Linked DNA regions of Homo sapiens. The protein of the gene in region 1 purifies or fractionates together with the protein of each later gene. This does not show direct contact. Each region holds a gene or a part of one and is shown on either strand. Other genes may lie near its edges.

Region 1 (3,500 bases):
AGAAAACCAAACACCGCAAGTTCTCACTTATAAGTAGGAGCTGAACGATGAGAACACATGGACACAAGCGGGGAAACAACACACACTGGGGCCTGGTCGGGGACGGAGAGCATCAGGAAGATTAGCTAATGGATGCTGGGCTTGATACCAAGGTGAAGGGTTGATCTGTGCAGCAAAACACTGTGGCACACATTTACCTAGTTAACAAACCTGCAGATCCTATACTCATACCCTGGAACTTAAAATAAAAGTTGAAGGGGCTGGGCACGGCGGCTCACCCTTATAATCCAAGCACTTTGGGAGGGTGAGGAGGACAGATGGCTTGAGGTCAGGAGTTCAAGACCTGCCTGGCCAACATGGTGAAATCCCGTCTCTACTAAAAATACAAACATTAGCTTGGTGTGGTGGTGGATGCCTGTAATCCCAGCTACTCGGGAGGCTGAGGCAGGAGAATCGCTTGAACCACTGCACTGCAGCCTGGCTGACAGAGTGACACTCTATCTCAAAAAAAAAAAAAAAAAGTTGAAGGAAAAATAATAAATAAATGAAACCCCAGGAAATTCAGTTTGGTTCCTGAGCATGGGCTCTTTCTGGAACAATATGGCCTCCTAACCAGGCTGGAAATCGAGGAGTGAGAAGAAAGGGGAAGGAAACAACCAGAAGAATGGAAAGCCCGACTGGAGCCCAGTAGAGACTCCGGTTGATGCACTTCGGGCCACACACACGTCCCTGTAACTGGCCCCACACTGAAGACCAGACTCAGGTCTTCATTTTTTAGAAGGAGGGACCAGGAGCTCAGGGGTGGTCCCCATCCCGGCCTGGGGCACCTCCCCCGAAATACGTGCTCTCCTCTGGCAGGTGATGGTGAACGGGAGCCTCTTCGTGCAGTACTTCCACCGCGTGCCCTTCCACCGTGTGGACACCATCTCCGTCAATGGCTCTGTGCAGCTGTCCTACATCAGCTTCCAGGTCAGACTGTCCACCTGGCACCGGTCCCAGGGGCTGGGATGCAGGGCCCAGCGTAGCTGTGCTTAGGCCCAGCTGGGGGGACCCAAGCCAATCTCCTACCCAGGTCACTCTGGGGACAACCTCTGCTTCCCTGTCCCAGTACCTGCCCGCCCCTTCTCCTCTGTCACTCTGCCCCTCCTTCTGTGTCACTGTCTCTGTCTGGAACACCTGCCTTGGTCTCCCAGACTCCTCAGCTGCCCCTTTCTCTTCATCCGTCAATTTCCATCCTGGTAAGGAGGGCATATTGTTCTAGAAAGAGCCCAGGCTCAAGAACCAAACTGAATCCAGTTCAAATTCCCAGCTCTGCCATTCGTCATCTGTGGGATCTTAGACAAGCAACTTTGCCTCTCTCAGCCTCAGTTTTGTCATCTGTAGAATGAGCATGGTCATTGCCTGCCCCCCATGGGTGGTTGTGTGATTCATTGAGGAGACAGATATCAGAGGTCACACAATGGCGCCCCTGGGCCCACACCAGGGTCTGTGTGACCTCTGTGTTTTAAAAACTTTGAATGCGTTGCCAACATCTAAAAGGTCAGGAGACCCAGGTATGGTGGTGGAGGTCTGCAATCCTGGTTACTCAAGAGGCTGAGGCAGGAGAATCGCTTGAGCCCAGGAATTAGAGTTCTGCCTGAGCAACATAGCAAGACCCCATCTCTAAAATCTTTTTGTTTGAATAATAAAATAAAATAAATAAAACTAAAGAAGGTCAGGAGATACCAACACCACGTGAAAAATGGGAAGATTAGGGTATGCTGGGCCCACATTCCCACAGGGCACCGGCAGCTGGATGGGAGCTGCTGTTACCCTTTTGGCATTCAAGGGAGCTCCCTGAGATGAGCGAAGTGCACAGTAGGCCCTCAGCAAATCTGGGCTCCTCACCCTTTGGTCCTCATCTCTCATTCCCTCCTTCCCTGACTCTCTCCCCTGCGGGTGGAAGGGGAGGGAAGAGCTGGAGGGAGACTGTCCCCCTGCGCTGCTCACCGAAGCCTGGCCCTTTCCGCTCCCGCCTCCGTGTGGCCCTAACCCCCTTGCTGCATCCCCCTGCCTGCCTGTTCTCTGCCTCCTGCCCCTGCATCTGCCTTTCGGCTTCTCCTTGGCTCTATTAATGCTTCTCCTCACCGGCCGGTGCCTTTTGTTTTAACAGAATCCCCGCGCAGTCCCCGTTCAGCCTGCCTTCTCCACGGTGCCGTTCTCCCAGCCTGTCTGTTTCCCACCCAGGCCCAGGGGGCGCAGACAAAAAGTGAGTTCAACACAGAGGCCCTGGGTGGCTGAGCAGACAGCAGGAAGGACCGAGGGTTTGAGAGGCTGGCCCCAGCCAGCAGGCCACCAGGGCCTATGGGCCACATCTTGCCCACTCAAGAGTTCCCTGTCTCTGTCTGCTGGGCACCCAGAGCCGGGGACCTGGGTGTTGCCCTGGATTCTTCACTACCCTTTCTTTATGTCTCTCCAAGGCACCAACATATCTCCCTCCCAAAGCCACCGATGTGGCCCAGGCCTCTGGGATTCCTCACCATGACTACAGGGGTCCAGTTCCCCACCCCCCACACCCAACCGCTGCCACAGTGACCTTCTTATAAGCAAATCTGATCACACTCTCTCCCTGCTTAAAAATCTTAAAAGTCCCCAGCCCTTTAAACAAAGCCCAAATTCCCCAGCAGGGCATACGAATTCCTCCCCAGTCTGGCCCCAGTCCACCTCCTTGCCTCACCCCCAACCCACGAAGCTCATGCAACCTCCACGGCTCACTCAAGGCCCTCTCGGGCCACCATGCTTTTGCATATGCTGTCCCTGGTCCCGGAAGCACCCTCTGCCAGCCTGCCCTCAGCACACGCCTAATCGCCCTTCCATGCTCTGCCAAAGTGTCGCTCCTCTGGGAGTCCTCCCTGCCCAGAATATTGTTGGATGCTCCCCCCATGCCCCCACGGAGTCTGTACATATCTGTGCCATGCCAGTTCACAGCACCCCATTGTAACTGTTTGCGTGTCTGTCCCTGTCACTCCACCCCCATCTCCCTATGCCCATGAGGCCCCAGAGGGCTGGGACTGTGGGTCGTTCATTTGCACAGTGCCTGGCACTCACTTAGGGACTCGAAGAATGGATGAATGTGGAATGTGGTTTTCGCAGCCAGGGAGAATGGGATACCAGCCAGGGCAAGAACAGTCTACTGGGTGGGGCAGGATCCACGACAAGGAGGTGGGCAGCCCTTCCTCTGGCCACTCAAGCAGTGGGGACTGGGAGGAGGGGCGCTTTGTCTATGTAGCCTTTTTATGGCCCATGATGGTACAGACAGTGCACCTGCCTCCTGCCACGCTGACTTCAGGACTGGTGGAGCCCCAGGGAACATTCGCAGGGCAGCCAAACTTTGGCCCTGGCCCTGGCGCTGGCCCTGGCCCTAGGGATGACAGAAAGTGTGCTGGATACAGTCAGACAGAATTGGCTGCCATTTTGGATTTGATCCCTTCCACCCGGGCAAGCTTGGGCAAGTTGCTTAA
Region 2 (3,500 bases), on another chromosome or scaffold:
CCTGAGAGCAAATTATTCCTGAGAAGCAGCTCTGGTTCCAACTGTTTCACATCTGAGGAGACAGCGAGTGAGGGCTATGCATGGCTGGGGAGAGACCTTAACAGGGGATGCCTCCACAGCTCCCCTGCTCTGTACCCTAACCTCCCGAGTCCTTCCTACACCTTCTGCCCCGTCTCACCTTCAGGGCACAGGAAGGGTCAGCAGCCACAGCTGTGGACCACCCACCACCAGGGCCCCACCAAGCCACAGCAGAGACTGGAGTTGAGCAGACAAATCTTTATTCCTGAGGCTAAAATATGCACCAGTTCCCTCCCTGTACCGCGCCACTGCCAGCCTGACTGCATGCAGGCCCTGTCCCAGACCTGGAGCGCTGAACTTGGAGTCCCAGGACCTCCTTCCCTGAGTTGTGTGTGTGTACATGGAGGGGACTCCTGGGTAGCACCTGGAGGCGGCCTAGGGGTGAGGGGCTTCTCAAGGGTGCCCTGCACCTCCAGAGGTGCAGTCTTGGGCAGGATGTAGCATGTTCAGAGTCTGGTGACCTGAGCAGGCAGAGGAGGGGAGGCTCTAGTCAGTTTCCAAAGGACACAGACCAACCCCCGCCCCTAGAACAGCTTTATCCAAAGACAGCGGAGAAAGCACTGGGCCCACTGGGGACAGAGCCATGGCCACCAGGAAAGACTCCCTGGAGCTGGGGCCAGGGTGGGGACAAGCAATAGATTAACAAAAAAGAGCTTGGCAGGCCAGAGGTAGGCTCACCGAAACAGGGCTGTCGGGGACAGGCCTCGGGTGTTGGAGGGCAAAGGTGACAGCATCATGGACAGAGGCAAAGAGATGCTTCTTGGTGATGGATGCATCGAAGAAGTGCCCAGCCTCAAGCTGGCTGACCACAGGGCCTGTGGGCAAGAAGTAGGCCTCCCCTGACTCTCAGAACCTCTAGGAACTCAACTCCCGGGAGCCAACAGAATGCCCTGACCTCATCACCCCTGACCTCCACCCCTGAGGCTACAGCTGAATCCACATCACTTGTAACCCTGGACTCCTGTCTCCCAGGACACCTCTGACCTCCAGTTCCAGAGAAAGACTTTTTCCTTGTGCTACTTGGAAAACCCCTTGGCCAAAAGTATCCTACCCTCTTCCCAGGTCCCTCCTGCTGTTCCCACCCTACTCACTGTGGCAGGCCGCCATGTACACCTCCACCTCAATCTCCCGGAAGTCATGGAAAATCTGTAGCGGAAAAGGGGGCCAGCCTCAGAGGGAGGCTCAGGGACTCAGAGGGGGGCTCGGGCAGGCTTGGGGAGGGAGTTTAGAAGGGGAGCTTTGAGGGTTTGGGGAGTCAGAGGCTGGGAGTGCTCTCAGGGCAAATTACAGGGTCAGTGTGGAAGCTCGAGGGGCCTTGGCCTGCCCCCGTCCTTACATTCTTCAGGCTCTTGAGGCACACAGTGTCCACAAAGGAGAGGGCACCCAGGTCCAGGATGAGGCTGTGGAAGTCTGGCTGAGGCAGGCCCAGGGCCTTCAGTGTGGACCCATCTGGGGCCTTGGAGTCTTCTTGACCATTGGCTGTTGCATCTTCCATCTTATCTCCTGAGCTCACCTGCTGGGGAGCCAGACATGCTGCCAGGGCCACCCATGAGAGAGTGAAGGCAGGACTGGCCGCACACAGACACGCGAGAACACGCAAGGTCAGATGGGGAGCATGCATGGGACACATAAGGACACAAACATGCGGGAGTCACATAGGTGTGCAAAGACAGGAATGACAGATGTGTGGGGACATGCAGGAGGGCACACCCAGATGTGCATATACTGCTCTGCTACCTCCTGGGCCGACGCTGCACAGGGACACGAGAAGGGAGTCCCTGTCCCATTCTCATCAGCCAGGGCTGAGTGGGGAGGGGGCCCAGGAGCAGGCCAGAATAGACACGGGCATCCACATGAAACGCATGCAGACACCTCGGCACCCTGCCCTGTCTCAGTCTCTAATTAAGTTTGGCATCCTCTTTGACCCCTCAATTTTTTTTTTAGAGACGGGGTCTCGCTTCATTGCCCAGGCTGAATGCAGTGGTTATTCACAGGCACCATTAGAGCGCACTGCAGCCCCGAGCTCCTGGGCTCAAATGATTTTCCCGCCTTAGCCTCCCGAAGAGCTGGGACTACAGGCGCGTACCACCACGCCTGCCTTTGACCCCTTGATTTTCTCCCATATACCCCATCCCTTTCCTCTACCCATGAGCAGACTCTGGGGGAAGTCTTGTGGGATCTACAAATTCAAGGTCTTCATCTAGGCCTGAGAATCTAAGCCTAGATTCTGTGGCATATCACGACGCTCCCTGAAGAATATCTGACCCAGCCTCCCCACTCCTCCTGCCATCGGCGCAACACCCTCGAGCCCACAGCTGCTGGGTCCATGGCATTCCTCATGAGACATGTGGATCCTGCATCTCTGCAGCTCACAGCTGTCACCTCCTTTCCCACCTCCAGTCTCACCATCATCTTGCAGTCCTCAACGTTGTTGCTCCTCATGTCTTCAAGGCTGGTGTTGACATTAATGGAAACTGAGGCGCCCTTGGGGGAGGCAGCCTACACCAGGGAAGACAGGGAATGGGAAACAGCTAGCCCGGCTGCCATGACAGCCATGTCACATAGGCCTGGTGATGCCCCCTGGTGCTGGGCAGGTGGGTGGGCCAGGACCAGAAGCTGTGGGACCTGCAGCAGCCAGGCTGAAGCTCCTGGAACAGCCGTGAAAGGGAAGAGGACTGTGACGGTTCTCACTGTCACTGGTTCAGATGATGGGAGAGAAAATGCTGCCTAGAGCCCGGACCTGCTAGGGGAGTGAAGCAGGGTCCCTGGGAGCATGAGGGAGAAAGGGGAAGGGATGAGGAGTGAGGACGAGGGAGGAGTCGGGGGCCAGGAGAAAGGCTGGGGCAGGGAACAGGGGGCAGGAGATGGGGGTCACCAGACAAAAGGGGCCCTGCCTGTTTCCGAAGCTTCTCCTCTTTCTGCAGTTGCTTCAGCTTCAGCTGCTCCTGCTTCTTGAGCAGTTTCTTCTTCTGGGAGATGAGGAAGTCGACATCCACACCACACTGGAGGCAAACATCAGAGAAGGGTTGGTGAGCTCTCTGGGAGCTGGGGCCTGACACCCATCCTGGGGACTCCGTCTCACCCTCTGCTTCAGCGCATCACTGTAGAACTCAGCATTGGCAAAGTACACGGTGGCCGAGGAGCGGAAGACCTTCACCCCCCGGACTTCCTTGGCCTGGGGATGAGGCAGAACTGGTGGTGGCTGAATCTCCTCTCTCCTGGCTGCATCCTGTTCTCCTGCCTTTCCTTCCCTAGTGTGCCCAGTGCCTGCCACCGCCCAGCCCTCTGCTCCCCAGGCTGCAGTCCAGGCCCTCCCAGGGGCTTAGGCCACAAGCCCGACGGTGTCATCCCCATCCCCCCACAGTGCCTCTCCCTCCCCACCTCTCCTGCCACCACCCAGGCAGGCTTCACAGGCTCTTAAC
Region 3 (3,500 bases), on another chromosome or scaffold:
TTTGCAGGTGAAGAAAACCATGGGAGTCAGGGAAAATACTAGGGGGCAGAGGGTACTGAATCTGAAGCCCTTAGGGACACTAACATTTAGTGTGAGTCAAGGAATAGATTTCAACAAAGAAAGCAAACTAGGATGGGGTGGACAAAGCAGGAGGAAATTCGTAATCAGGAGATACCATGGAGGCCAAGAGAGAAGAGCAAGAAAGAGACTGCCCACTGGCTCAAGAACTGTGGAAAAGTCAAGACAGAAAGTGAACCATGCATATTTGATTTTTCACAAGGGATTGGTGGTGACTTTGGCAAGAGCTGTAGTAATGAAGAAGTAGGGGTGAATGGGTGGAGGCCACGTAACAGATTTAAGGAGTGAATTGGAAGTGAGGAAATGCTTATAGATTGTTAATTTGGGATGCTAGGGAGAGAGAAAGTATGAGGGATTTTTTTTAAGTTGGCAAATATTCAAGCAATTTTTAAAGACACACACAAAAACAACACCTTGTAAATGGAATGGGGGATGTGGGAGGCTGATAATCAACTAAGGAAAGTCGTTGAGGAGACTGATGGGTATGGAGGCAGAAATGGAAACTAGCTTTCAGGTGATGGGATTCATTTCAGAAAAGGAAGCAAAAAAAAAAAAAAGGTGTGGATAGTTGGGGTTACAGGTAGGTTTATAGGGAAGGAGTATTGGAAGCTTCAGGATTCTCCTCTGAAGGTTTCAGTTTGTATTAAGAAATAGGGAGAGAGGACTGTTGGAGAGTATGGGATAAAGGGCAGAAGGGAGTAATTTAAGAGTTGTTAAAAAGAAGCGAACATTTACATGAAATATGTAAAATGGTAAAGATTGAAGGCCCGGAGGAGCAGGGACTATGACATTCTTCTGTTTTTGCCTATTAGCAACATGAATTTTCTTAGAAATCTGTAAGACCAATTACTCTTCTGCCCATCCATAAGGACGTTGTCCATGCAGAAAAGATAACACTTGTAACCTTGTATTATATACTTATCATCGCCCATTTGAGAATTGTAAGCTCCTAAAAGATAATAACTATATTTTTTCATCACTATATCCCCACATCCTATCACAATATTTCATCACAGGTAATTCTTGACAAATGTTGATTGCATTTTTAAAATTTCTAACCTGAACTTGTGTGCTGTGACCACCATGGATTGAGTCTTCTCTGCCACTACAAAGCTCTTTTCTAGACTATGATATGAGATGGTTTGGGCTGATAGTCTATATTCACCAATACTTGTACAGTTCCAATGAAGGTTTCAAGTCTAATACTTTTGGCATTTGATATAAAATCATTTTCCCATTTTATTTGCTAATTTATCTATAACTCTGGCATTACTCTTGGTTACATTTGTCTGCTGCTATCTGATTTAGACTGCTATAAGCATATCTTGTTTATTCAGAGTTTTCTTATTCATGTTAATTATCTGTGTTTCTTTATTTGCTCTCTACATTTTAAATAGTTTCTTCACTTTGCTGTTTTATGAGAAGGGAGTAGGCAAAAGGAAAAAACCCCAAATCAGACAGTTTTACTACTTAATAGTTTTTTAATGCATCTTTATAGAGATTGAAGTTGTAGTTAACAGCTAGAGTGATATTTTTGGCCTGCCCTTATTTATTAATTACTAGTGCAAAGGTTATTCAAATTGTGGTTTATCCAGGTCAATTTTACTGTTATTTTTACTAATAGCATTTATTCTACTTAAATTGCTTCAGCTATAAAATGTTTTTATTGTAACAAATAATGCAGTATAATTATTGCTTTCTGTATTCCTTTGAAAATTCATTCTCTAAACATATGTTATGAAATGGTGGATTGTTCACCAACTACTTCTTACTTACTTAATTAAAGCCTTTGCAAAAAGTTTCATAGGATGACTGAGTTCTTCATTCGTACCTCTTTTTTTTAAGAATAATCTCTTGAAAGTCAAACCATGATTCATACAAATATAAAATGAACATGTGTCAAAGATTTTATTTCACTAATTAATTAACAAGCAAACTAGCAAGAAGGCAAAACCCTTTTAAAAGAAAATTGGAAAAACAGACACATTTATAGGCAATCAAGAATGCCTAAATGAATTTGCTAATAAATGCAAAATTGGTCAATATCCTCAGGGCAGTAAAATGTAGTCTTTTGGAATCCTCTCTTCCACCAGGTGGAAATCAATTGCAGAACAAGATTTATTTTTATCTGTATGGACAGCAATCCATTTGAATTACTCTCAGTTTTCTACAACTTATGAAACTGTAAAACAGCCCAGTCAAAGTCAGTGAAAGGCACAGGCTTCTATAGAGTCAGATAATTCCAAAGCGTCTGTTAGACATTGCCCAGCACTTGACTGAAAGGATACCCAGTAGTCTTTGTATCCCTTTCAAAATCTTCACCATATTTTCTGATACTTTCCTTCCTTTATAATTTGAACATCTTCACCCCTTTATTCTTCTCTGGTATACTATGTCCTCTCTCCCTCAGTGTTTCTCTCTCAGGGGAAATAATTCACAATTCCAAAGTTTTAAAGAATGCAACGGAAGTCCAGGTTTTGCCTTGGGCTTCCTAGTATTTGGGTGGCTAGAAATGTAGAAAACTGGGAAGAGGTGAGCTGTGGATGCCCACAATATAGGTTCAGACTGCAATTTCCCAGAAATATAACAATTTGGACTAGTCAAAGAGGGCCCATATCATTACATTAAAATGCCAGATTATCTAGTTTTTATAGTATCACCCTACATTTTTACAGCATAGTATTGTTTAGAGAGCACTTGCCGCTATGTTTTCCATGTTAATGCTCAACACAGTTCTGTGAAGTAGCCCGGTGTTTGTTTTTGATCCTCCTACTTAAGAGATCCTCCTATTTTAGAGAGTAAACCAAGGCATAGAAAAGTGAGTTGCTTAAGGCAGCATATTAAAAAGGGGCAGAAATAGTATTTTTACTCAGGTGTTTTGAACATTGTCCAGTACCTATATTCCAGTATGCATCCTTGCATTCAATTCATGGGGTATTTATTGAGTAAACATAGTGTTCTTACAATAGAAACATTCTATGCCTCTGATTTTTATTCCAGTTTATGTAGAAGTAAATCTTAAGTGTGAACTATTAACAAAGTTGATATTTTATTTATATTTGTTAGTAATTTGTGTTTTGTTTTTGTTTATGTTTTGAGGGGAAGGCCAAGTAGCTACTTAGGTAAAAGAGTTGCTGAGTGGCTGAAGAATATGGAAGACAACTACAATTCCTACACATTCTTGTACATTTTAGTTGAACAATGAGTGATTACATTTATTTACCCAGTGCCTCTTCTATAAGGCAACAACTGGTAGTTTATCCTATTGAGAAGCGTAGATAGGATGCTTATTAGCAGTAACTGCTCTTGGTTTCAACTTGCATCTTACTTAGCTTTTTCACCGTTTTGTGGTTTCTTGGAGGAAGAATACCCATAATATACATTTGGAGACTGTTGTTCTGTAGTGTCAATGAAATGTGGGG
Region 4 (3,500 bases), on another chromosome or scaffold:
GGGCCTATACAAGACTGCAACACAAAAGGGGCTTTAGAGACCAGGGAGGAGTGTCAGTGAGAAGCAGGGAGAAATGTGTCCCCTCTCTCTAGTTTCAGTTTAAAATGGTGCAGGAGCTGGGTGTGGTGGCTCATGAGTGTAATCCCAGCACTTTGGGAGGCTGAGGCGGGTGGATCACCTGAGCTCAGGAGTTTGAGACCAGCCTGGCCAACACAGTGAAACACCATCTCTACTAAAATACAAAAATTAGCTGGGCATGGTGGTGCGGGCCTGTAGTCCCAGCTACTTGGGAGGCTGAGACAGTAAAATCACTTTGAACCTGGGAGGCAGAGGTTGCAGTCAGCCAAGATTGTGCCACTGCACTCTGGCCTTGGTAACAGAGTGAGACTCCTTCTCAAAATAAATAAATTAATTAAATAAAATGGTGCAGGAGGAAAAACAATCTCCCCGCTGTGTGGGGAAGCAGGAACTTTATAGAGTAACATCTATCAGTGGAGCCCAAAGAGTTCTAAGCTAACTGCTGTCACTACATCTCTTTCCAAAACATTCCTAGTAAGACAACTGATACTGTTCTCCCCACCTTGGTTAGATTCTCTCCTCACCCAGAGGAATGACAAAGGAATTGAAAGTAGCTAGCTCCTCTATACCAGAAAAGGAGAAAACCCTGACAACAGGTAACATCTAATTCTTTTCTCATAGACCATTAATTTGTGCTAGTCTCTGAAAACAGACTAAAAAAATGGAAATTTGCCATTTTAAACAAATCAACTTATGGAATACTCACCAAGCACATAAAGAAAGAACTTCATGGTATCAGTAATATTTGGCGATTCCATTTCATACTCATCTTCATCTGATGATGTTAAGTTGTAGATAGTGAGGCTACCTGACACAGTGTCTAAATAAACCCTATTTTTAAAAGATGAGAAAGCTCTGAATTCAGAATTTTCCAGTTCTGCAACTTTATCCTTTTGTTTTTTCCATAGGACCTCTTTTAAAGGCACATTGCTTGGTACATGGAAAGTTACATTCCCATACACAACACCATATATTTGTTGGGAAAAACAGCTGATGAAACCTAGGAGAGAAAAAAAAATTGGTTAGAAAAAACAACATGACTTTGGTGGCAGAAATTATTCATCAGGTACTTTTTGTGCTAAGCTGACAAACTGCTGACACAAAATACAGGAAGTAAGAACATGTTTGACCATGTGGAGCTTACTCTTTAATAGAAAACTGGGACCTGCATAAATCCAAGAAATGGACCCGACATTCATGGAGCACCAACCATCTGCCAGGTAGTACGGGCTGGGCTGGGAATATGGGGTTGTTCCAGGCCCTCCAGGAGCCTCACGTGTGGAGAAGACAGGGAGCAGGCTCTACATCAGGGGCTGCATGAGGGGAGCTGCCTGGTCTAGGGCCTCCCCAAGGAAGTCATGCTGGAACTGACATAACGTGCAAATCACTGAAGGATAAAAGGCAGTTAGGCCGCAGGGCTGGGTAGGTGAGTGGGTGGGGAGTGGAAGAAGAGATGATCATACAGATATATAGGAAGCAGCACCCCCAAAGGAAGGCCCTGAATGGAGAAAGAGCATGGTGTGCTTGAGGATACACACGTGATTCCTAACAGCTAGAATGAGGAGGGCAAGGGGTGGCTGGTGGGGAACAAGACAGACAAAGGCCAGCCCACAGCCTATGTGTGCTAAAGTAAGGAACGCTAAGGGTTTGGACTGATCCTAATGGAGAGGAAGCCACAGAAAGGTTTTTAACAAGACTGGCCTAACATAATTTAAGTGTCAGCAGGCTGACTGTCTTTAGAGTAGAGAGCGGCTGACAGGGGCCAGCACAGAGGCAGGGAAATTATAATGAAAGTCAATGCTGTAGCAATGAAGTCCATGGACAGGACAGACCAGAGCAGGGTGTTTGTAGTGGGGACAGACAAGCGGACAGACTCAGGAGATGCTGGAGAGAGAAGTCAACAGGATTCAGTGATGAGGGTGGGGGAAGTGGATGGGACTGTCAGGTCTCCTTGGCTGACTGAGAGGCATCATTAACTGAGATCAGAAACAATGGCTGGGAAGCAAGTCGAGGGTGTGATGAAGATTAAGAACTCAGGGATTGGGTGCAGTGGTGGGTTGGAGCCAGGTCCACCTGCCCTCATGAGCCAATTGTTAGCATCTCTGCCCAGCCCTATTAGGGAACATCTAGTAACAGCACAGAAACTGACTAATGCTTCACATCAGAACCTCCATACCAACCTAGTTGTTAAACATTTATTAGAACCACAAGATTGGGATATTTTTGATACCCCAAAGTGGGTTTAAATGCATCTTGCTCTAGGACTTGTCTCTTGTTAAGAGAGAACAGCAGCTGGGTCCTGTGGTTCATGCCTGTAAGTCCAGCATTTTGGGAGGCCAAGGTGGTTGGATTGCTTGAGTTCAGGAGTTCAAGACCAACCTGGGTAAAATGGCGAAACCCCATCTTTACGAAAAGTACAAAAAATTAGCTGGGCATGGCACACACCTGTGGTCCCCAGCTACTTGGGAGGCTGAAGAGGATTACTTGAAGCCATGAGGCAGAGATTGCAGTCAGCCATGATTGTGCCACTGCACTCCAGCCTGGGTGACAGAGCATGACCTGTCTCAACAAACAAACAAAAAACTGCAGCTATTTTAAGTTAACATTAAAGAGCAATTAAAATTTGACTGAAGTTTTTGCCTAGTAGCAATTAGGGTAATTGAAATAATACAGGGGAAATCAAGAACACTGAATGACCAGTTGTAGACAACTGTGTTAGTAATTTCAGATAAGAAGCAAATATCACCCATTTGTTTATCTACAAGGACTTTTTAGAACCCATCTCCCTTAATTAAGGGGAACTGCCCTCAAAAACACACCAGCATCTTTCCATTGCTTTGCCGATTATGCATTATTTCCTCCACTCAACAGAGTATGTGGGAAGGCACAAGAAAAAGTACAGAATTCAAGGGGTGAGAGTCTACCACACACAATAGTGGAAACTCAAAAATGTCTTATAAATGTAAATGAAACAATGAGTGATAGAGGGCAGGGTGGTGGTGAAAGAGTAGGTATGAGATAAACTGCCATACCCTGGCGGCATGAAGATGTCTTTTGTCTTTCCCAGGGAGAGCTGATGTATCCTGGGCTTGAGAACAGTAGAAGAAAGTAGTCAGGAATGGAGCTAGTGGTGGAGGGAAGTGAGGGTAGAGAAAGGGGAGACTGCAGCTCAGAAGAAATCAAAGTACAGTTGACCCTTGAACAACATGGGTTTGAGCTGTGTGGGTCCACTTACATGTGGATTTTCTTCCGCCTCTGCCATCCCTGAGATAGCAAGACCAACCCCTCCTCCCACTTAGCCTGCTTTAACGTGAAGATAATGAGGATGAAGACCTTTGATGATCCACTTTCACTTAGTAAGTATATTTTCTTCCTTATGCTTTTTTTTCTTTTTTAAATTTTTTTATTACTATTATCTCAAT

What was found. The genes of interacting proteins can lie anywhere in the genome.
Region 2: the proteins of LGALS9C (region 1) and SLC26A6 purify together in Homo sapiens (affinity purification with mass spectrometry; 2 studies listed by BioGRID and IntAct, with this or other methods). This does not show direct contact.
Region 3: the proteins of LGALS9C (region 1) and CD47 purify together in Homo sapiens (affinity purification with mass spectrometry; 2 studies listed by BioGRID and IntAct, with this or other methods). This does not show direct contact.
Region 4: the proteins of LGALS9C (region 1) and CD58 purify together in Homo sapiens (affinity purification with mass spectrometry, with the first as the bait; one large-scale study listed by BioGRID). This does not show direct contact.

The regions. Positions count from the first base shown.
Region 1 is NC_000017.11:18,486,789-18,490,288, forward strand, and holds part of LGALS9C (galectin-9C), read left to right. Parts: intron 1-111; exon of another isoform or gene 112-128; coding exon of another isoform or gene 129-152; intron 153-858; coding exon 859-969; intron 970-2,152; coding exon 2,153-2,248; intron 2,249-3,500. UniProt on the Homo sapiens protein: Binds galactosides.
Region 2 is NC_000003.12:48,625,462-48,628,961, forward strand, and holds the end of SLC26A6 (solute carrier family 26 member 6), read right to left. Parts: intron 3,254-3,500; coding exon 3,161-3,253; intron 3,081-3,160; coding exon 2,973-3,080; coding exon of another isoform or gene 2,954-2,972; intron 2,578-2,953; coding exon 2,485-2,577; intron 1,612-2,484; coding exon of another isoform or gene 1,595-1,611; coding exon 1,415-1,594; intron 1,225-1,414; coding exon 1,170-1,224; intron 894-1,169; coding exon 757-893; intron 540-756; coding exon 525-539; 3' UTR 262-524; downstream 1-261. UniProt on the Homo sapiens protein: Apical membrane anion-exchanger with wide epithelial distribution that plays a role as a component of the pH buffering system for maintaining acid-base homeostasis.
Region 3 is NC_000003.12:108,081,032-108,084,531, reverse strand, and holds part of CD47 (leukocyte surface antigen CD47 isoform 1 precursor), read left to right. Parts: intron 1-3,500. UniProt on the Homo sapiens protein: Adhesive protein that mediates cell-to-cell interactions. Acts as a receptor for thrombospondin THBS1 and as modulator of integrin signaling through the activation of heterotrimeric G proteins.
Region 4 is NC_000001.11:116,543,527-116,547,026, forward strand, and holds part of CD58 (lymphocyte function-associated antigen 3), read right to left. Parts: intron 3,435-3,500; exon of another isoform or gene 3,352-3,434; intron 1,299-3,351; exon of another isoform or gene 1,175-1,298; intron 1,079-1,174; coding exon 785-1,078; intron 1-784. UniProt on the Homo sapiens protein: Ligand of the T-lymphocyte CD2 glycoprotein.